Regions from separate parts of the Homo sapiens genome. Here regions 2, 3 and 4 are each reported to be linked to region 1. Evidence: microRNA targets listed by miRTarBase, many of them from high-throughput screens and not tested one by one. Region 1 holds a microRNA gene; each other region holds the end of a gene's coding sequence.
The links. Region 1 holds the annotated microRNA hsa-miR-6766-5p (CGGGUGGGAGCAGAUCUUAUUGAG, at 1,289-1,312, opposite strand). A microRNA usually pairs through its seed, bases 2 to 8, with sites in the 3' UTR of a target mRNA and lowers its output. Matches are read on the target gene's strand: a 7mer-m8 pairs with bases 2 to 8, a 7mer-A1 pairs with bases 2 to 7 and ends in A, and an 8mer does both.

Region 2: miRTarBase lists SPSB1 as a target of hsa-miR-6766-5p. Seed matches in the 3' UTR shown: 7mer-m8 at 7,495-7,501 and 7mer-m8 at 7,525-7,531.
Region 3: miRTarBase lists E2F4 as a target of hsa-miR-6766-5p. Seed matches in the 3' UTR shown: 7mer-m8 at 2,413-2,419, 7mer-A1 at 2,207-2,213 and 7mer-m8 at 2,040-2,046.
Region 4: the mRNA of FBXO45 is a reported target of hsa-miR-6766-5p. Seed matches in the 3' UTR shown: 7mer-A1 at 7,230-7,236, 7mer-A1 at 7,536-7,542 and 7mer-A1 at 7,667-7,673.

The regions. Positions count from the first base shown.
Region 1 is chr15:89,325,494-89,328,493 of GRCh38, forward strand. MIR6766 (microRNA 6766) reads right to left here and starts at 1,317; the gene lies at 1,246-1,317. POLG (DNA polymerase gamma, catalytic subunit) reads right to left here. Exons shown (of 23, transcript NM_002693.3): 6 at 2,963-3,000; 7 at 1,674-1,856; 8 at 1,419-1,570; 9 at 1,119-1,245; 10 at 1-193.
Region 2 is chr1:9,361,885-9,370,164 of GRCh38, forward strand. SPSB1 (splA/ryanodine receptor domain and SOCS box containing 1) reads left to right here. Exons shown (of 3, transcript NM_025106.4): 3 at 5,564-7,648. The coding sequence ends at 5,691. Among named protein-coding and RNA genes, the nearest start is that of LINC02606, 63 kb to the right of the region's middle.
Region 3 is chr16:67,197,611-67,200,610 of GRCh38, reverse strand. E2F4 (E2F transcription factor 4) reads right to left here. Exons shown (of 10, transcript NM_001950.4): 8 at 2,965-3,000; 9 at 2,700-2,744; 10 at 1,693-2,603. The coding sequence ends at 2,488. It overlaps ELMO3 (engulfment and cell motility 3), which reads right to left and starts at 1,480. Exons shown (of 20, transcript NM_024712.5): 1 at 1,207-1,480; 2 at 1,018-1,058; 3 at 855-927; 4 at 610-660; 5 at 250-419; 6 at 61-160. The coding sequence starts at 1,284. RefSeq lists a silencer at 2,085-2,144.
Region 4 is chr3:196,580,636-196,588,938 of GRCh38, forward strand. It overlaps FBXO45 (F-box protein 45), which reads left to right. Exons shown (of 3, transcript NM_001105573.2): 3 at 3,498-8,303. The coding sequence ends at 3,683. Among named protein-coding and RNA genes, the nearest start is that of FBXO45, 16 kb to the left of the region's middle.

The sequences.
Region 1 (3,000 bases):
CGGCAGCTTGGCCAGGTTGTCCCGCCGCCCAGGCACCAAGTAGCCCCAGCCATGACGCTCTGAGTAGTGCAGAGGGAAGCCATCCCAGGTAAGTGCCATGAGTTTAGGTGTGACCCGCATCTGCAGGCTGAGGAGGCTGGGGCCCGGGGTCCATGCAGGGTCGTCTAGCCGGGGGCAGAGCTTCCGGTACCATCTACGTCCCAGCAGGAAGACAGCAGTGTCACGATGGTAAGGGCAGTTGTTGGGGGGAAGGTTCTCTCTCTCACAATGTCCCCACCCACCCTCCAAAGCCCTGGGGCTTTCTGGTGACCCCAGCCTACAGCCGCCATCCCCTCCTCTGGGATGCTTTAGCCAGGACCCCCATGGAATCCTCTAGAAGAATATTTCAAAAGCAAAGACACTAAGTCAGTCCCACTGGACTAGTCAGAAGCCAGGACACAAAAGCATACCCTGACCCAGGGCAGGGCTCCTTCCCAAGCTCCATTTCATCCAGGGTAACTGACCAGAGGAGGGAGCAGATCTGCCCTCCCCACCCCTCTAGAGAAACACCAGTCCTTCTGGGTGCTCTCTTGCAGGCTGTTCACCAGAGTTGAGCCCAGGGTGAGACTAGCAAGGCACTCAGGACACTTGCTCTCAGGGTCTTGCAGGTGCAAAGCTGGCACCCTGCTGCTCACCCTGGCTGCCCTTTTTCTCATCTCTGCCACCCTATGAGGCTCAAAGGAAGGGGCACCTTCTCAAGGAAGCCTTCTTGATTTATTTCCCGAGGCAGAGTCAGAACTCTACCTATGGACACTAGCTGCACTGGCTGGTCTACGTGCCTGGCTCCTCCTAGGAAAAAGAACTACTGGAAAGGAGGAGCTATGCTCCAGTGTGTACACCCGGTGGCTGCCACGGGCCATTGCACAGCAGGTGCTCACAACACTGTGCTGAATGAGTCCAGTGAGCCGGTCCAGAGTGAGCAAATGAGAATAGGACTGGAAGACAGTGTGACTGAATGGCAGCAGGTCAATAAGTATACATGTGCATGATGCCTCTGTGCCAGAACCCAGACCAGGGCTGTCCTGAGAATGGAGCAAGGGTAGACTCTAGATACACTGCTGGGGGTGGGCAGGGCTCACCCAGGGTGTCCAGGAAGGTGCTGGGGCCGCTTGGGCAGGAGCTCTGTGGTCCCCTTCAGCTTCTGCAAGCAGGCGCGGGCCATGACATCTTGTTGAAACTCCTCCTCCTCACTGCAGGGGCCGAGGTCTGTGAGGGTGGGGGAAGACAATCAGGAGCAGGAGAAGGAACTCTCAATAAGATCTGCTCCCACCCGCTCATCTCCAGAAGGCTGGAGCAATCCTTTCGAAGGACCCCCTCAATCACAGGACCTTCCCAGAGACAACCCCTACCCTACCCTACCTCCCACCCATGCTCCCCACCTTCCTGATCCATGGGATCACCAGGGGCCCCAGCCCCCTCGATGGGCAACTTGCTGGCTGTGGCTGGTTCCTTCTTCACCTTCTTAGCTTTCTTCTGCTTAAATTCTTGCAGGTCCCACTCCAGGTCCCAGAGCCAGGGGTCTTCTTTGTACCTACAGAGCCAGTCCACTAGGGCAGGGCTAAGGCTAAGCCGAAGGCTAGGCCGCCCACCTGCCAGTCCCCTGCCTAGATCCTGCCCACCCAAGGCCTGGCTACCTCTCTCCTGAGAGCAGCTGGCAGGCATCATTGGCCAGATCCATCAACGACTTCTTCATCTCCCGCTGGAGCTCCTCATAAGTGCCCTGTGCCTCTGCCAGGTAACGCTCCCAGTTCTGGTTGACAGGCAGGTAGGAGACACCCATCTCCAGCATGCCGGCCAGAGTCACTGGGTGGGGACACCTTGGAGGCAAACACCAGGAGCTGCCATAAATGACCACAGGAGGCAAGACTGGCCCAATCCCTGAGCTGGTTTAGCAAGCCTCAACCCAGCCACTGACATGGCACAGCTCAAAAGTCAGACGGCATTAAATCCCAGCTCTACTGTTACTCATCCCTGGGTAAGCAACCCCATCTCTCGGAGCCTCAGTTCTTTCATCTATAAAATGGGAACAATATCATCCCATCCTCAGGGGTAATGTGGGAAATATAGATGGCAAAAGTGAAAATGGCTGCCACACGTGGAGTAATGACTCTGTGCCAGGCACTGTGCTAATAATCCCATACATGAAAAACATCATGCCTGAACCTCACAACTTGGGTGGTAAAATACAGCTGACATTTAAACAACACATGTCTGGATCGTGCAAGTTCACTTACACATTTATTTTCTTCAGCCTTAGCCACCCGAGACAGCAAGCCCAACCCCCGCCCTCAGCCTACTCAACGTGAAGGATAGATATCTTTATGATGATCCACTTCCACCTAATGAATAGTAAACATATTTTCTCCTCATGATTTTCTTAATACATTTTCTTTTATCTAGCTTACTTTAAGAATACAGTATATAATACGTATAACATAAAAAATATGTATTATGTTATCAGTAAAGCTTCTAGCCAACAGCAAGCTATTAGTAGTTAAGCTCTGAGGGAGTCAAAAGTTACACCCAAATTTTCCTCCCTTCTTTTTTCTTTCCATATCTTTGGTACAAATATACCTGAATTTTCAGCATACAAGGGTCACTTCATAAGACAGACTCATTAATAAACATAACCACGCTGTATGTGAAGCCCTTGGCTAAGGATCTAGTTAGAGAAGGTGCACAGTAAACCAGGACCGTGCACATGACACACAAGCACAACTCCATGGCCCTCCCCTTCAGGGCCTCTGTCAAATCCAGAGTCCAGGGCCCAGATGGACACCACTGAACAGAAGGGCTCCATTCTTTCAGCCTAGAAAAGCTAAGGTCCCCAACCTGAGATAGAACCAGCGCCACCTGATTACAGTGGGCCCGGGTACCAGGAACACACTGACCCCCAGAGATTCCCACATGGGCTCCCCCTCACCTCTCCAAGAAGAGCGGTAGCTGCTGCTGGAAAACCTC
Region 2 (8,280 bases), not on the chromosome of region 1:
GGCTGTCCAGGGGGAGCCCCTGACCTTGTGGGTCCTCTGGCTCTACCCCCACTGCTTTAAAGACATCTCCCACTGAGGAGGCATCTTCCATGCAGTTCAGCATTTTCGAATTTTCTTTAACGGCTCCCAGATGGGTTTGGTGTGGTTTGTCGTGGTTGAAGGTTCAGGGAAGGTCAGCTCGTCTCCTCAAGATCAGAGCCTCCTCCCGGGTGCCTCCTTCCTGCACTCCACTCCAGCTGGACTCTGCCGGGAGCTACTCATCGGGAGACTGATACACCGCCACCAGGGCCACCCACCCTCCCTCCCTCCCTTCCTTCCTTCCTTCCATGTCGGGGAGGGGTTGTCCCAGACCCTATTCCCCACACCCTCCAGAAGTTCTGGTCATATGAGGACCGCAGGCTCTCAGAGTTTGGGGGGGATAGGGGACCAAGGGTGTCTGATCACCTAGGTGGATCTCAGGCGTCCTTCCCCAGTTGACAAGGACAAAGGCTCCACGTTGTGTTTGGCTGTGCTCTTTCGTAAGAACTGCGTAGTGTAGAGGAAAACACACACACATCCTATGATGGCCACCCGACCCGTGACATTCTAGAATCCATGTCCTGGAGCGTGGTCCCCACAAGCTGCTTGCAGGGCCAGCCACAGGAGCCATGACAGCTGTCAGCGAGGACATTGCGGAAGCCGGGGCATTCTCTGATGCGGAACATTTTTCCTTGACCTCACCGTTCTGCAGCTCGTTCACTCAGCCCGTGAACTGGGCACAGCACCACACTCTTGAGGCTTGAGTTGGGTTGAAATCTCTCGGGGAACAGTGAGACAGTTGTGGGTTGGGGCTCTGGGGCTGTGCATGTTCACGTGGGCCACCAGGTAGCCGTTTCTCACAGAAATGTGGAAGCTGGTGCACTGTCTCTTCCAGTTCCTCAGGCTTCTGCTCCCAGAAATAGCGCCTGATTGACTTCCTGATTTCTTTGCTGCTCATTCAGCATTGCACTCTCATTCACAGAAATTATTTAAATGAATGAGCGCCTAAGCTTCCTGGGGATGGGCATAGCAGCCAGAGGCCCCAGGCCACAGTGCAGGTGCCCACCCCCTCGGTAGATTTCAGCAGGCACCTGGGTTTGTGGCTGGAGCTGGGTGCAAAGCTGGCAGCCCCCAGTCAAGAGTGTGGAGGTTGGGGAGAACTCCCTGGTACTGGTAGTGACCAGCTGAAATGGGGGCTGGGCATTTTTTCACGGCACGAAGCCCACGTCTGTTTCTGTGGCCATGCATTCTTGGTCTCTGCCCAGCCTTTGGAAAGCAGTTAGACCGGGCCCTATGCGCCATCAGTTTCCTCCTGCAAGATCAAGGAGGCGTGACCTGTTTATGTACTTGAGGACCCAGAGAAGAGACCCATTCACAGGATGCCTGGGTGACTCTGGTCCTATTTTCAGCTCATAACACATCACTGCAGCCATTCACTGCCACTTCTCTAGCCCGTCTTGGTGGATCCCATGACCCATCCCTAACTGGTTTATTCAGTGAGATCCAGAGATGGCCAGGCTGTGGCAAGTCCTCTACCCCACACAGCTGCGTTCACAGGGGATGGATTGTGGCAGCTGGAGGGCCTCATCCCTTTGGAGTCCATGGCTCTCAGACCTTGGACCTGTAACTCTCACCTCCCCAAGCCCATTTCCCTATCTGTAGGTTGGGGTCACAGTCCCCATCAGGCACACGACTGGTGCCCCACAGGCCATGGCTGGGGCTGGGGCTGCGGTGTCAGCCACTCAAAATAAGGCACTGGATGGAGCTGGGGGCTCATGTGGGCCTCTGCAGTTTTAGAAAATTTTTTTTTTTTTGGAGATGGAGTCTCATTCTGTCACCCAGGCTGTAGTGCAGTGGCGCAATCTCAGCTCACTGCAAACCTCTGCCTCCCAGGTTCAAGCAATCCTCCTGCCTCAAACTCCCAAGTAGCTGGGACTACAGGCATGCACGACCACACCCAGCTAATTTTTGTATTTTTAATAGAGATGAGGTTTTGCCACACTGGCCAGGCTGGTCTCAAACTCCTGACCTCAGGTGATCACCCACCTCGGCCTCCCAAAGTGCTGGGATTACAGGCATAAGCCACCGCGTCCAGCCTAGAAACATTTCTTCATGGGTTGATTGGAAACCCGTTACACCAAGAGGGTAGTGACTGAACTCCCTCTCAGCCCTCACTGCTGCAGCCTGGCAGGGCTCTTGGGCCACATTCAGTGGCTCTTGGAGCTTTCTCAGGTGCTTTCCAGCCACGAGGGAGAGCCCCTCCACTTTCCGGCGGGGGCTGAGCCACATTCTCCCGGGAGGGAGCTCAGGGCAGCCCAGACCCCTTGGCCCTGATGCAGGCCAGATGCAGGCGCGCTCCCAAGCAGAGAAGAGAACACACCTGCAAATTCCCCACTCCTCTGTGCAGAAGACCTACTCCCGACAGCCAGGCCAGACCACAGGCTGCGATAAGCACTTCTGGCCTTCAGGATCTTGGCTGCATGGGACTTTGGGGAGAATCTGGTCTGGATTCCGTGTCTTACAGATGGGGAAACAAGTCCGGGCAGACGGAGGGATGTGCTCCAGGTCAGGCTGCGGGGCAGGGTCTGGAGTCACCAGGCTGGGTGTTTTACCCGAGGGAAACCCAACCCTGTGAGGAGCCGGGTGGGTGGAACCCAGTCCCACCCCATCACGAGGGGTCTGTGGGATCCTTGACCTTAAAGAACCCAAGGTTATTTCATTCCTCCATTCGTCTCCAATCAGAGCTCCTCTTAATCATCCTAAGCTGGCCACGAAAGGCCCCCTTTCAAAATTCTCCATTAAAAATACAGAACATTTCAGTTCCTTGTCAGGAGCTGTGGCTGTGACCGTCCATGGGGGATGAAGAGCAGTGGTCCCTCTTCTTTTGTTTATTTATTTTTTCAGTTTTGGGGTTTTTTTGTTGTTGTTTTGTTGTTGTTGTTGTCGTTGTTGTTGTTGGTTTTTCTGAGACAGAGTCTTGCTCCGTCACCCCAGGCTGGAGTGCGATGGTGTGATCTCGGGTCACTGCAACCTCCACCTCCCAGGTTCAAGTGATTCTCCTGCCTTAGCCTCCCGAGTAGCCGGGACTACAGGCCCATGCCACCATGCCTGGCTCATTTTTGTATACTAATTTTAGTAGAGATGAGGGTTCACCATGTTGGCCAGGCTGGTCTTGAACTCCTGCCCTCAGGTAATGCGCCGGCCTCGGCCTCCCGAAGTGCTGGGATTACAGGCGTGAGCCACCACACCTGGCCTGTTTTCATTTTTGAGACAAGGTCTCTGTTACGCAGGCTGGAATACAGTGGCACAATCACAGCTTACTGCAGCCTTGACCTCCTGGGCCCAACCGATCCTCTCGCCTCAGTCTCCCAAGTCCTGGCTGATTTTTATTTTTTGTAGCGATGAGGTCTCCCTATGTTGCTCAGGCTGGTCTCAAACTCCTGGGCTCAAGCAGTCTTCTGTCCTTGGCCTCCCAAAGTGCTGGGATTACAGGTATGAGCCACTGTGCCTGACCTGGTCCCTCTTCTTTTAAAGCTTGGGGTTTAGTAAATGCATTATCAAGCCTAAGGTCCATTCTTCTATTTTGTAACAGCTTTACTGAGCTATAATTCACATACCTTACAATTCACCCATTAAAGTATCCAATTCAGTGGCCTCTTGCGTGGTGAGATGTAGGAAACAATTTTAGAACATTTTCATCACCCCAAAAAGAAACCCTATACCCATAAGCAGCCTCTCTCCATTCTGCCATGCCCCACCCGTAGTGTTTGGTCTTCAGTAATTGATTTTCGTATATTTGAGACACATTGGTGAATATTAAAGAACTTTAATCCACTTTTTACTGGTAGGATGGAGTTTTGCGGGTTCCTTTTAGTTTTGGGGGCTATTTTGCTCACAAAGGAGTCTCAAAGTCAAGGGGAGACCGTGGATGAAGCCTCAGATCCATTAGTTTCAGGGCTTTCCATCTGCAGAACAGCGTGGGCGGCCCCACGAAGGTCCAGGTGTGCTCACTCCTACCTGGTTTCAGGAAAGAGAGCAAAGAGGGGTCTGCTCTGGCGAAGCGGGCGAGCAGGGCCGCGCAGCCTTCCAACGCTCAGAAGCCTTGGAAGGCATGAGTTTCAGACTCCTGAGATCTGAAGCTGACGGCTCATCTGAGATGCAGCTGAATGAACTCAGCCTCCTTTGTAGGAAGGCAAGGCTGGGCGCTCTGGGAACACAGGATGGAGGTGCCTGGGAGGCTGCAGCTGGAAGCGCTCTGTAACCCTGGGGCCTGAGGCAGCTCTGCCCAAGTTCCCCTGGCTGTGAGAGAGCCCCATGTGCCTGGGGCAGTTGCGGGGAGAAGGCCCAGGCAGCTCTGGGGGATCAGCTGAAACTGGGCTGGCATTTCCAGTTTCCTGGGGCCTGAGCTTGGCCTGGGCCCTCAGCCTCACTGTCAGACAGAAGCACAGACACCCGGGGTTTCTCTGTCTCCATGTGGCACAGAAATGACACCTTCAGGCCGTGGGGCCAGCCAGGCCTGTCACGTATGATTCAGGACAGGGTTTGCCATGTCTTCCTTTGCAGCATGGTTAGTGGCTAAGGGCATGGACGCTGGGCCCAGGCTGCCTGGATTCAGATCCCAGCCCTGAACCTTGGCACACTGGGTGTCCCCTCTGTGCCTGTGTGTCCTCAGTTCTTTTTTTTTTTTTTTTGGACCGAGTCTTGCTCTGTCGCCCAGCTAGAGTGCAGTGGCGTGATCTCAGCCCACTGCAACCTCCATCTCCCAGGTTCAAGCGATTCTCCTGCCTCAGACTCCTGAGTAGCTGGGATTACAGGCACACACCACCACGCCCAACTAATTTTTGTATTTTTAGTAGAGACGGGGTTTCACCATGTTGGCCAGGCTGGTCTTGAACTCCTGGCCTCAAATGATCCACCCACCTTGGCCTCCCAAAATGCTGGGATTACCAGCGTGAACCACCATGCCCAGCTAGTCTTCAGCTTTAAAACAGAGGTGAGAATGGTATCTGAGAGCAGCTGGTAACAGAAAATGATTCCCTTCCTGAAGCTAGTGCTGGGGGTGCGTGCCAGGAAGAGCTGGCTCCCATGTGTTCCGACCGACAGGCCCCAATGGCAGCTGCTTGCCTGGACAGGCAGAGTCACCAGTGGGGAAGAGCAGGGATCGCCTGGGTTCGAATCCTAGCTGCATCTCCTGCCAGCAGGGCGACCCCTGGCAAGTCATTTAGACTCTGTCCCTCAGTTTCCTCATCTGTAAAATGGGGATGAAGGTAATGGTGTCTCTGTGACTATTAAGTCATTCATAAGAAACCACTGTGAGGATTAAATGAGTGTTAGCAGAGGGCTCGCCCAGGTGCCCAGCCCAGGGTGGGCTCCTGGTGGCAGCTATTCACATGCTAAATTTAAAATGAAAAAGCATTGCATTTTTCATTGTTTCTTTACTGATTTGAGTGAATACTAATCAGTGATAATATTGCTGCTGTGGTTAGCGCTGTTTGCTGAACACCCACCCAAGCTGCGCTGACCTGCAGTTTCTCTGTCTCCCCAGCCGAGCCGCTGCCGCTCATGGATTTGTGCCGTCGCTCGGTGCGCCTGGCCCTGGGGAGGGAGCGCCTGGGGGAGATCCACACGCTGCCGCTGCCGGCTTCCCTCAAGGCCTACCTCCTCTACCAGTGACGTTCGCCATCATACCGCCAGCGCGACAGCCACCTGGTGCCAACTCACTGAGCCGCCTGCCGCTGGGGCCGCCGCACCCTGCACCTTGGACCGGCATCCGTAGCCATGGACAGAGGTCCCTGGTCTTCCCTCATCCTCCGTGGCTGCCTCCATGGGACAAGGACCGATTCCAACACAGGCTCCTCTTTCCCCCTTCCCGACATCAGCAGAAGGCAGCATCCCTGCATGCCGTCCGTATACAACCCCTCTTTGAAAAAAGACACAGAGAATAAACTCCTACGAAAGCCCTACATTGAGCTCCAATCTGCTCGGGGTGGGACGGGTGCTTCCCACACCTCTGGGAGAAGGCTGCAGCCACCTGGGGGTCCCAGGGTGGTGGGGGTGGCAGGTGGTACCACAGCTCTGAGAGCAGATACCAGGGGTACTAAGAGGTGCTTAGACAAGGGCTGGTGCCCGGCCCAGGGTGCCCAGCGGGGCCATGCCATGGCAGATAAAGCTCAGGACGTCAAAAACTCACCATGGACCCCAAGGCAGAAACCAAGAACTGTCTGCAGGCAAATAAGCACCCAGCACCCATCCTGGCTGCCGGTGCCCCGTACCCTGTATTTATTCTTTTAACAATAACAAAAGCCATTTATTTATTCCATCTAGAAAGGAAACCCTGTTTCAGTCCCCTCTCTCTGGCTGTTCTGTTACTTTCCTTCCACCTGTGCCCTCCCTGGGATATGTATGCCTCGCCCGCCCTCCCTGGGCACATGTGCACACGTGCCCAGGCACAAGTATGTCTCTGGGTCCCTTGCCCTGCAGTTTCCAGGGGGCTCTGCTCCAAGTTCCCTAGCGGGCCCCTCAGGGAGAAATAGCCTCACGTGCAATCTGGGTGTCTTCGGGGGCCCGTCTGGAAGGGCTGCAGCAATTCCCCTGTGTCTCCAGGTAACCAGCTAACTCTTGGGCTCAGGCACCCTTGCACAGGGTTGCATTTCTTTAGTCTTCTGTGGGTCTTTTGATGTGGGTTTGATTTTGCTTTTGCTTTTCTAGCTGAGATTTCCCAAGTGCATCCTCAGAAGCTCTGGGTGTGCCAGAGGACCCCCAGAACTAAGAAGGGAGGGCGAGTGGGTCTCCATTCCCCGAGAAGCCGGGGGCAGGGTGGGATGGGGAAGACCAGGAGCAGAGTCGAGCCTCACAGAAGCCAGCGCGGGTCTCTGCTCAGCACCCCAGCCGGGGCTCTGGACCCAGGGTAACAGCCCCAGTTCATCCCAACCCCTCTCAGAGCCTCAAGAGGGGTAGCTCGGCTGCCGGAAGAGAGGGGTGCCCTATCCCTGGCAACCCCTCCACGTAGCGTACCCCAGCACCTGCCACCGCCTTTGCCATTTCTTTGAGCTTGAAGTTAACTCTCTTAGAGTCTAACTTTGGTTCATTTCTGCACAGGTACAATAGATGACTTTATTTGTTTAAAATGTTTAATATATATACATACATATATATATATTTGTCTGTAAGAATTATGTTTTAAACAGCTGCTGTAGAGTACCTTTTTTTAAGTAAATCTTACAGTGGAGTATATTTTTTAAAGCACAAAATTGGTGCCAAGACTGGGTGAGAAATGTACATTACCCCCTTATTATTTTGACGGTTTTTTTTTTCGGGGCAGGGGACCTTACCTGTAAGACTTTTAAAGATTTTCCTCCCTCCTGTTTCAGGTGGGTCACATTCTGATGAATGTTTCCCTTGTACAGATCCCAGCTTATGGCCTTGACCCAGCCGTCCTCACAGATGCCGGGTGACCCTCTAGCTCTCTCTGCATCTCCCACCCCCCGACACCCTGGGACCCTCGACCCCACCCTTCTTTCCTACCAGCCCAGAGCCTTGTGGCTTGTACAGTTTTGAAACTCCCGTTCTATTTTATGATGGTTGATAATAGTCAGTAACCTAATAAAGGAACGTTTGTTAAAATATCAAACCATTTTTGAATTCCTCGTTTGTGCCTCGGGGGAGGGGAAAGAGACATAGCTGACCCCTCCTGGGTCCAGCCAGCTCCACGGCCCACAGTTTTCAGCAGATGATGGGCTGACTCCCTACCACCCCTTGGCAGAGGGTGGGATGCCAGGCAAAGCCCCAGACAGAGAAGGAGAAGGAGAGTCCTGGAGGGAGGACCCCAGAACAGCCTCATCCCCATTTCAGAAGTTCCTCAGCCTGGCAGCCCAAGCTGCAGAAACTTGCCAAGTCTAACAGACAGTGATTCTGTGCCTTCGTGAGCGCATCAGGTTGGTTTGTGGGGTTGTAGAACTTGAGTTGACCGTGGGCTTTTTAGGAGCAGAGTGTGAGCCATTGTGGGCGTCCTCAGAGTCCAGGCTCTAGGGGAAGGAGCAGGTCCTTCATTCGTCTTTGTGTCCCCTGGGGCTGAGTGCACGGTGATGTTTGCTGAACTGTTGCAGAGTGAACTTGTTCTGCTAGCCATGTGGGCAGAGCCCCCGACAGAAAGGACAGGAAACTCTGGCTTATTTAGGGGATCAATGGGTGATAAAATGACAGTCAAGAAATTTACTAAGATGTGATCACGTGTCACGGCTAGTTTCCAAAGAATTAGCAAGA
Region 3 (3,000 bases), not on the chromosome of region 1:
GTCTACCACTGCCCCACTGCTCCACTGCCCCCACCCGCTGCCCTAGGAAAGCCCACCCACCTTCCTCACAAAGGGGATGCTCAGAGTCTCCCAGGACACCACGCCGTGCTCCATGAGCTCTGAGAAGGCCCTCAGGCTGAGGGCCAGCACCTCTCCTAGGCTGGAGGGGGGACATCTGGGGCTGAGCAGGACCACCCCAGGACCAGAAAGACCCACCATCTCCCCCAGCCCACACATCCCTGTGCTCACTCGTCCCCATCTTCAATGATGGTGCCTAGTATCTGGAGCCCATTACGGCTGATGACCTCCCTGGCAAAGATCATGTCCGAGGCCAGCGGAACAAGGCGCCTCAGGGCTTCCCGGCGCCCTTCAGGACTGTTACTCTGCAGCCCACCCAAGAGCTGCTCAGCCTCAAGGTCCTGGCAGGAACGGAGCAGGAGCAGAGGTGAAGAGGCTGGGCATGGTAAGGGTGGGACCTGGAAGTGTGCGGCCCCGGGCGTCAACTAGGTGGCGCAAGGCAGGGCTGGGGCGGGGGCCTCCGGGGCGGGGGGCCTCTGGACCTGGAGCAAAGGGGCAGGGATGGGGAAGGCGGGACGGGAGGGGCATTACTGGGGCCGTGCTGAGGCACAGGATGCTGCCATTCTTGATCTCCGCGCGGTTCTGGAGAAGACAGCAGAAAAGGCAGCGAGGTCAGGGAGGGCTCCGAGGACTGATCAACTGGGGTGTCGGTGAGGGCGGCTGGGGGTGAATAACAGATCGCGCTCCGGTAGTGGGATGAAGAGCCAGAGTTATCGGGGCCAGGTGGGTTAGAGGGGTCGGAAGGCCGAGCTTGGGGCTGGGGAGAGGGGACTCACATTCTCGGTGATGTATCTCCGGTGCCCATCCGCAAACTGCAGGGCGTAACGCTCAGAGTGCGTCAGGCTCCACCTGAGGGGCACGAGGCTCAGCGAGGCCGGCAGGGGGCGCCGCCCCTCCTGCCCTCCCGCCCTCCGCAGGCCCTGGCCCGGCAGCACTCACGCGTCGCACACCTCCTTCAGCACAGCGGCCAGGGGCTTCGCCTGCAAGTGGAGTGGTCATTCTCGCGGCCTGGGCAGGGAGGGATGGGGAGGAGCCTGGGGGGAGGGGTGGGGCGGGCTGCCCCGAGGGCCAGGGGGCTACCGGGAGGTGGGGCAGTGGGGCAGATGGAGGCGGGACCAGCCGGGTGACCTGGTCCAGCTGGATGAGCTGCGGGATGGCGTCACGCATCTTGATGGCAATCTTCACCACGTTCCGCGGAGGCGCCATGGTCCAGCTGGGACGTGGGCGCCTGCACTTTCCGGAGACCGTGCACCTGCGGCCAAGGGTGCACCTGGCCTGGGGCCCCTGGGGACGAGGAGGTCCTCCCTTTCCGAGACCTGACCTCGGTGTCCCGCACTCGCGGCCCAGACTGCTGCTCCTGGCCATGCAACGCGGCCTTCCCAAGGGAGCCGAGGTTAGTTCCGGGTTGGAGTCTGGGGGTAGGAAGGTAGGACGGCTCCGCCTGCCCCGCCCCGCCGAGGCGGCCCCGCCCCACACCAAGGTGCGGCAGGTGGGGGCGGGGAGGGCAGGCTGCCGGAGGCCGCCCCACCCCTAGTTCCAGCAAGGTGACCCACCCAATCACACTGCCAGTCCAGCACAGTCCCAAGGAGGGTCCCCAAAGAACCACATCAGAGCTAGCCTTAGGCATGGTTTTTATTCACTTGAACACTGTACAAATATTACAATTTCCTTTTGCTGCAAAAAGTATAAAAATAATCTTTATATAGGAATCCATTCGTTACTGTAAATCTTTCTAAATCTCTGCAAATGGCTCTAAATGAGGGTAAATGAAAAAGCCGAAATGAAGAGAGGGTTATGGGGCAGCAGGAGGTGGGGCCAATCATCAGGGCTGGACCACCCAGACTCCTCCCCAGAGACCTCTGTTCCTTCTTGGTAGCCGCCCCCACCACCTGCAGGTTCTAGGGCTAAAGGCCCAGCAGAAGTGGGCACGTGAGAGGGCCAGGAGGAGCTGGAGGGTCAGGGGGTGGGGGATAGCGAAGGAAGCTAGAAGTGGTGCTGGCATGTGCCCAGTTCCACCCCACCCTTCCCTCCTAGGGGAAGGAGCTGGCAGAAGCAAGACACTGAGGCTGGCAGGAACAAGACACTGCCCCCTATGGGGGGTAATGGCAGCTCCTCGGTTCTGTGCCACTGGGTGGCAGCCGAGCCTGGGCTGGCGAAGGCCGCAGAAAGGGAGAAGCAAACACTTTGGCTCCACGGTGATGGGGGCTGAGTCCTGTTCCCCTGCTCTGCGAGCACAGAAGTGCCAGCACAGGAGCGGGAGCTGTGGCCAGAACTGTGCGGTGAGGGGAGGCCGGAGAAGCCAGGCGTCTGTGGCTCTCAAGCTCTGTAGGGGTCGGGTGGGAGAGGTCCCCAGGCAACCCCCAGGTCAGACAGTCTGGGTCCCAGCCACACAGGGCATGTCCCTGTCAGTCAGAGGTTGAGAACAGGCACATCAAAGAGGTCACAGACACCTTCACTCTCGTCCAGGTTGTAGATATAATCGTGGTCTCCCGGGGGTGGAGAAAGACGAAGCAGAGGGGCAAACACTGCAGAGAGCACTAGTCTCAGGCCCTGGGCCAGGGCTCCCCTAGCAGCAGCCCAACCCCTGCCCACACCCACTCCCACCTTCCAGGGCCACCCACCTTCTGAGGACATCAACTCCTCCAGCAGCTCCGAGCTCATGCACTCTGGGAATGGAGGGAGCTCAGTTACTAACATTCCAGCTCCCACCTCTCCACCCACCAAAGCCCAGGAAAGGGAACCCCACCTGCCCATCAGGAACTTCACCCTTTGCCCCAGTTACCATAAGCGCCACAACAAGGTCCTCAAAAGGGCAAGAAAACAGCCATAGGACCCAATGAGCTGTGTCCCTTACCCCTAGCCTCAGGGAGGAATGCAGCAGCCTACCTCGTGTGGGATCAAAGATTTCTGACAGCTCTTTGG
Region 4 (8,303 bases), not on the chromosome of region 1:
CTTTTAAGTGTTTAGTTCATTTACCTTTAATGTAAGTGTTGGATTGCTTGATGTTGTCCTTATCTCTGCCTCTAAAACTATGTTCTTGTTTTTTCCCCCAACCTTGTTTCTCTCTAATCTTTGCATTAGATAATTTCTTTTCCTTTTTTTTTTTGAGATAGGGTCTCGCTCTGACACCTCGGCTGGAGTGGTGCAGTGGTGCAGTGGCGTGATGATCTTGGCTCACTGAAACCTCTGCCTCCCAGGCTCAAGTGATCATCCCACCTCAGCCTCCAGAGTAGCTGGGACTACAGGTGCTCCCCACCAATGCCTGGCTAATATTTGTATTTTTTGTAGAGACAGGGTTTTGCCATTTTGCCCAGGCTGGTTTCAAACTCCTGAGCTCAAGCAGCTGCCTGCCTCAGTCTCCCAAAGTGCTGGGATTATAGGCATGAACCACTGGGCTTGACCTAAATTAGATAATTTCTGTTCTGTCTTCAAGGTTATAAATTTTTTTCTTTTGCCATCTCACCTCTGCTATTGAACTGGGCTAGTAAATTTTGCTTATTGTACACTTCAGCTTTAGAATTTCCTTTTTTTTCTTTTTCCTTTTTTTTTTTTTTTTTTTTTTTTTTTTGAGACAGTCTCACTCTGTCGTCAGGCTGGAGTGCAGTGGCACGATCTGGGCTCACTGCAGCCACCGACTCCCGGGTTCAAGTGATTCTTCTGCCTCAGCCTCCTGAGTAGCTGGGACTACAGGTGTGTGCCACCATGCCCAGCTAATTTTTGTATTTTTAGTAGAGATGAGGTTTCACCATGTTGGCCAGGATGGTCTCGATCTCTTGACCTCGTGATCCGCCCGCCTCGGCCTCCCAAAGTGAAAGTACTGGGATTACAGGCGTGAGCCACCACACTGGGCCTGGTTCTTTTTTAGAGTAAATTTCCTTTTCGAGATTCCTTATTTATTTACTTATACTATATTTGTAAAAAAATCTTTGGACATATTCATAACAGCTGCTTTGAAGTCTTTACCAAATCCAACACTTAGGACCACTTGGATTCAGCTTCTGTTGATTGCTTTTTTCCCCTAAATATGAATCACGCTTTCCTGTTTCTTTTCATATCTAGTAATTTTTTTAACTGAAACCTAGATGTGTAGATAATATGTAGTAGTAACTCCTGAATGTTTTGTTTCTAGAAACTGCTTTATTCTCTGAAAAGTATAGGTTTTCTTGTTTTAGTAGGCAGTTAACTTGCCTATACTCAAACTATAAACTCTGTCTCATGTGATGTGTGGCAGCTAATGTCTGCTCAGTTTTTTCAGCTTTGCTGCTTTTTTAGTCCTGGAGGTTTACCCTGTGCCTTTGTAATATAGTGGTCACTCAGGGATTTGGGAAGTTAATTCTCAGATTTTGGGGTTCATCCTTTCTGTGGTTCTGTTGCTTCTGGAGTTCCTCCTCTAAGTTTCCAGTTGCTCTGCCATCTCCCCACGTTTTACCCCAGCACCTAAAGATGGTAAGACTTCGCTTTCTCCACCCTGGGCTTTGTGCGTGCTGTGTGCTCAAAGGTGAAGCAGATTTGCAGATTTCACCAGGAGTAATCGTTACTTAGTTTCAACTTCTGTAAAATAGGGATAGTTCCTAGGATTAGTGTGAGGATTAAATGGGATAATACAAATACGACACAACACAAATACCCAACAAAATTAGCTTTTCATTTCTACTTTGTTAATATTTTGTTGGTAGGAGTGGTGGTGATGATGATTTGGAGGTTCTTAGATCCATAAAATGAGGTGTGGGTTAATCTGTGAGGTGGGCAAAGGGAGGAAAAAAGCAGATGTTGGCAGTTACTGTTAACAGGAAATACAGTGAAGGAAAGTAAATGACAATAGTAGGGGTTATAATCAGGTAGAATTAAATTTTGATTGCAAACATTAGGACTTTCTGTTTCCAATTTTGTAGATGCAACATCTTTTTATAAAGGCAAACTAAAAAGATGAAACATCCTTTTTTTTTTTTTGCTTACTTTTCCAAATGGGAAAAAACTGGATATATTCTGCTTCCAGTTTCGTTTAATAATCAGTGCTGCTGTTTTTTATAACAAACAGGTGTTTCAGAGTTGTGAACCACAAATTGTTTAATAAGCCTATTCTATATTCTACATTAGAATTTGTAGCCAGATTGGATTATTCATGATTCCACATTACATGTGGAACTGCTTTGTAAACTTTAAAAGCTGTGTGTCTTACTAAGGTGATTTTTAAAATTGTGGTGAAACATACATATTTATTATTTTAACCATTTGTAAGTATACAATTCAGTGGCATTAAATACATTCACACACCTCTCTCTATACCCAAAACTTTTTCCTCACCCCAACATAATCTCTATTATGTTCATTCCCTATTTCCTTCACTCCCCACCCCTGGTAAACTCTGCTCTACAACTATATATATTTGAGTATTCTAGATACTTTATATAGGTGGAATCATACCATTTAGCCTTTTGTGTCTGGCTCATTTCACTTAGCATAATATTTTCAGGGTCTATCTATGTTGTAGCATATATCAAAATTTCATTTCTGTTTATGGCTGAATAATATTCCATTGTACGGCCGGGCGCGATGGCTCATGCCTGTAATCCCAGCACTTTGGGAGGCTGAGGCAGGTGGATCACGAGGTCAGGAGATGGAGACCATCCTGGCTAACACGGTGAAACCCGTCTCTACTAAAAATACAAAAAATTAGCCGGGCGTGGTGGCGGGCACCTGTAGTCCCAGCTACTGGGGAGGCTGAGGCAGGAGAATGGCATGAACCCGGGAGGCGGAGCTTGCAGTGAGCTGAGATTGCACCACTGCACTCCAGCCTGGGCGACAGAGCAAGACTCCGTCTCAAAAAAAAAAAAAAAAAAAGTTCCGTTGTATGTATAGTATAGTAATTTGAGAAGCTGATTTAGATTGCTCTTTTTGGTAAAATATGCCAAGTTATAGATTTTAGTGTTAACCTTAAGAAAAACCTTTAAACAAAGAGTAAATAAAATCAATCTAGGTAGTGTTCAGGTGGAACATTTAAATTGTAAGTAATTAAGTGTAGATTCCATGTGAGTCTTAAAAACAAAACTATCAAAGTAAGCATTTGTGATGTGTTACCTAGGCTGGAGTGCAGTGGGCAGTGGTGCGATACCAGCTTTGCGCCACCACACCCAGCTAATTTTTGTATTTTTAATAGAGATGGGTTTTCACCATGTTGCCCAGGCTGGTCTTGAACTCCTGGGCTCAAGCAATCCGCCCGCCTCAGCCTCCCAAAGTGCTGGGATTATAGGCATGAGCCACTATGCCCGGCCAGATGTATGTCCTTTTTTTATAGATGTTTCTTCCTGACTAGAAAGCTTCCCTTCTGATTTTTCTAGATAGCTTTCAGGATAATATTCTTAATATTTTCAACTTCTTGATTTGTGTCTTGTTTCTTCTAGCTACACCCTTGGCAGATTTTCTTCTAACCTTTTGATATCTGTTTGCAGATAGGAGAAAGAATTCGAGTCATCTTGGACATGGAAGATAAGACTTTAGCTTTTGAACGTGGATATGAGTTCCTGGGGGTTGCTTTTAGAGGACTTCCAAAGGTCTGCTTATACCCAGCAGTTTCTGCTGTATATGGCAACACAGAAGTGACTTTGGTTTACCTTGGAAAACCTTTGGACGGATGACAGTGGCTTTCTTGTGATGACAGACAGAATGGAGGAGAGATCTGCTTATGGGAAGTAGAACCATGAAGTGACTGTCACACATGCATGTCCAAGAAACATCCTGAAAACACATGAAGTCGTAAACTGGAGAAGCAGCTCTACAGCAGAGATTATCTTCGTGTTTCCTCTTTCTACTGGGCCAGAAAAATCCTCAGGGTTGCAGTTGGTTGAGTGGGCAGTTGACATATGCATGTTGCACCCGATGTTGTCTCTAAGTTAGCAATGTGTTATTTCCAGCTTTAAAGGTGAGATTGTAGAGATGCTGTCAAAGGGATAAGGAAATAGCAAGATTTTTAAGTAGTGTGTTTGTGAAGACTGATCCCATTTTACAACTGCCTGTTCTTTCTCCAGTCCTTTTTTTTCCAGCCAGCTTGACTATTAGAAAAGTATGAAACTGGTTGGGTTTTATTTAATATTTTTAATATATTGAGAAGCATGGTCTGCCTGGACTGCACTTCTCTAAAAGTGAGATATAAAATTGTGCAGCTATTTTAAAAGTTGTATATAATATGTGTGTAAAAAAAAAAAACTGTAAAAAAGAAAGGACAAACAGGTTGTTTTGTTCTAGTTCTAATTTCTTAAAAACCACTACATGGTTACAAAATTGGAATAACATTTGGGGACAACTGGGTTAACTACAAAGAAGAGGATTTTAAGAGGAGATGTGTTGTATTGACTCATTTTGTATTATTTTTGGCTTACAGTTCCCATAGCTGTTAGAGTCTGGTTTGTTTTTGTTTTTACTCTCAAAATCATAGTAAAGATCTCTCAGTCTCCTGGCTAAAGATTGAAGGAAGGCAAATCTATTTCTAATTATACATATATCAGTAAGGATGATCTCAACATAATAGTAATGTGTATCTTTTGGTATCCAGTTTTATTTTTGGCCTTCTAAGAAAGTGTCTCATAACACAGAACATTGCCATTTGCTCTTGTAGGCCTCAAATATGAAAGCTATTAGTCATAGAGCCTAGGAAAAAAAGAATTGATTAATGGTCCTTTTATTTTGTAACCTTATAAATGCTGTAGATATTATCAAAAAAATTTTAATTTCATATTGTTTACATCATGCAACTAATCTAAGCCTCAAACTCGTTATTGGGGCTATAAAGAAAACGTTTACTTACCCAGCTGAAACAGGTTAAGAATATTCTTAATCTCATTATAGATAATTGCCCCCATGGGACTTGAAATACAACACCTTGTGCTGAAAACTTCAGGTTGGCAATATTTGAAGGTTTCGTTGTAGAAGAGTTTAACATTAACTCCTATTTTGACTTACAAATCTTGTTTCTCATCACTAAAATGCTTTTGAATTAATAATCCAACCCACATGAGCTGAGAGTTTTTCTTTTGTTAGAAAAGAAACAGACATCTTTCTGTATGAAAGTATAAATTGTATGGTTTTAGATACATAAGAATTGACAAAAGCGAGCGAAATCTTTGTACTTCTGAGTTCTTGCTGTATGTATGTTTTGTTTTAAATCTGATTAGGGACACCCAGCAGCTGGCCGGGATTCTTGGATTGCTCCTTGGGAGTTAAGATTGTCAATACTCCTGTGAAGCAAGGGATTTCAGCCATAGAACAAAGATTTATTGTTGCCACCTGAAAAGTTTACAAGTATTTATTGTGTATTTGATACATTGCTTGAAAAGATGAAATCTGTTAAAGATTCTTTTCGATGTCCAGGTTAAGAAGAAACCTCCTTGTATTGAGTGAAATTATATGTTAAATGTATTAGAGAATGTAGGTGGTATAGAAATTGATTTTTCTTGGTGTAGAACAACTCAGTTCGGCAAAGTTTAAAATTTGATTAAACAAGAGAAGTGGTTCAGGTTGAAGATGGACTTGTTAGGAAGTGATCAAGTCCTTTAAGTACTTGTTTCTTTTTCAGGTTGTGATGTGGCCATTCCGAATTTTGTTGAGAGTTTGGTTTATAATTGTCTCTTTTGTCTTGTTAGTAAACATTCATTTGCAACAGTTTTGAAGGTGCTGAGTGGAAAACCGAAACACATGGTTATTGCGTATTGGACCTAGAATGAAATAATTGCCTCAATATTTAACAACAAGCCATTCTTATCTCAAAGATTTAAATTCCCGAATGTCCCATTCGCAAATCATATGCAATTGAAGTGAGCAGCATGAGCATCTGGGTCATGAGGGCCTTCATTTACGTAAATTTGTCACTAAAACCCAGTAGTAGCTCTACAAAATCTTAAACTGCTGCAGTGCTCAAGGAGATGGAATATCTTTGTCATTGGTGCTGAGGAGAGCATTTCGGTAGAAGACAGTTGCGCCTGAAGATTGAGTGTAAATCATTCAAACCAGTGGTTCTCAGTGTTGGCTGTATACACTTTGTAGTCACTTTGGAATGTTGGAAGACACATCGATGCTTGGGTTCCGTATGCCAAGATTCTGATGTTGGTCTGGAATATGAGCTGGTCATAAGGATTTTTAAAAACTTTCTGGTCATTTCAATATGCTGCCAAGGTTGAGAACCACTGTTGTAAAATTCACCTTGAGTTTTCTCATCTGCAAAATAGAAAAAAAAAAATCCTTGCTCCCTCCCTTCACTACCTCACAAGGATATTGAGGGTAAAGGAGAAAATAATGGGAAAGTGCTTGTGCCGTGGATGAAAAGTGCTATTAAAAGTCAAAGGAGTGTTCTGTTTCAATTCATAGTATGATCAGGGAAAGTGTAACTGAGTATACTTTGTTGACTTGGGAAACCTGGAGCACTTTCTTTGGTTGGTTAACGAAGCATGCAGATGTGGAAGCAGACGTTACTATTATCCCTACTATGGTCTTCTGTCATACTGAGACAGGCTGTTTTAATTACCTGGTTTTACATAGGAAAGAAGAAATATTAAGGCTTAAAGTTTGTAATGATCAATGGCTCATAATTCATTAAATCTTTTCATACAAGGAATTTGTGGTTAATGTCATTTCATAGTTGCCATTATTTTCTCATTATTTGACTTAAATGTTAAGCCATTTATTTCATCTCCCTCATTCACATAAAGTGTAGATATGGATTCAATAAGACACCAAAAGAAAGTAAGATTTACCCAGTTAATATTTAAAATCATTGTTCAGTGATTAGGCATTTTCTGCCTTTTAGAATTATTTGACTGGAGAAAGAGTTTCAAAAATAGCAGAGCCCTAAACCATAAAGAAACTACTACTGTATAATGAACTTTTGTTTGTTTTTGGAGACAGGGTTTCACTCTACTGCCTAGGCAGGTCTTGAACTCCTGGGCTCAAGCAGTCTTCCTGCCTCAGCCTCCCAAGTAGCTGGGATTACAGGTGTATGCCACTATACCCAGCTTTAACTTTTAAATCCCCAAACTATGTAGATTGTCATATTAATATTAATTTTTTTTTGTTATTTTGAAGAAGTGAGTAATTTGAAGAGATAGAAACTTAGGGAGTGGTGTGTGTGTTTCTTTTTTGGAGACAGAGTCACGCAGGCTGGAGTGCACGATCTTGACTCACTGCAACCTTTGCCACCCAGGTTCAAGCAATTCTCGTGCCTCAGCCTCCCGAGTAGCATGTGCCACCACACCTGGCTAATTTTTTTCTTTTTTCTTTTAGACGGAGTCTTGCTCTGTTGCCCAGGCTGGAGTGCGGTGGTGTGATCTCAGTTCACTGCAACCTTTGCCTCCCGGGTTCAAGTGATTCTCCTGCCTCAGTCTCCCGAGTAGCTGGGATTACAGGCACCTGCCACCATGCCTGGCTAATTTTTGTATTTTTAATAGAGACGGGGTTTCACCATGTTGGCCAGGCTGGTCTCGAACTCCTGACCTTGTGATCCACCCACCTCAGCCTCCCAAAGTGCTGGGATTACAGGCATGAGCCACTGTTCCCGGGCCTAATCTTTGTATTTTTAGTAGAGGGGGTTTATGCCATGTTGGCCAGGCTGGTCTTGAACTCCTGGCCAACACCACCCACCTCGCCTCCCAAAGTGCTGGGGTTACAGGCGCGAGCCACCGTGCCAGGCCAGAAATTTAAGGAGTTTTAAAGGTTAGCATTGAAAAGATTACTTTCCAGAAATTGAGACCACCACAGTTCCACAATTGGGACTGTGGTAGATAATCAGGACCACTTGGAAGCCTTTATTAGGAACAGCCCACACCCAGCCCAAATGCTGTCCTCAAAAACATTCCTCAGTTTCTCTAGCTGAATGTAATCTCTCCTTGAAATTTCCCTAGTTTTATATATCTATAGTTGACTCATGCTGTATTTATTTATACCTTGTTTAAAATTATTTATTGATTATTTATTGGTGTCATATCGCCCCTAAACTGGGACAGGATCTCTAACGGACTCATCTTTGTGCCACAACATGTAAGCCCAATAGGCAGGTGCTCACATATTTGCTGAAGGAACAGAGAAAGAACTGCGGAGAAAGACAAAAGCTCCTCTGAAGTTTTAGACTATAGAAGCAAAAATTATAGTAGCAAAAGATGAATGAGAAATTCTGTTCTAGTCCCAGTGAAGCAGGAAGGAAAGGGTTGCAAACTTGAGGCTGGTAAGGAAGAAATAATTACTGTGAATGCATTTAGCCACTCCCCTCTACT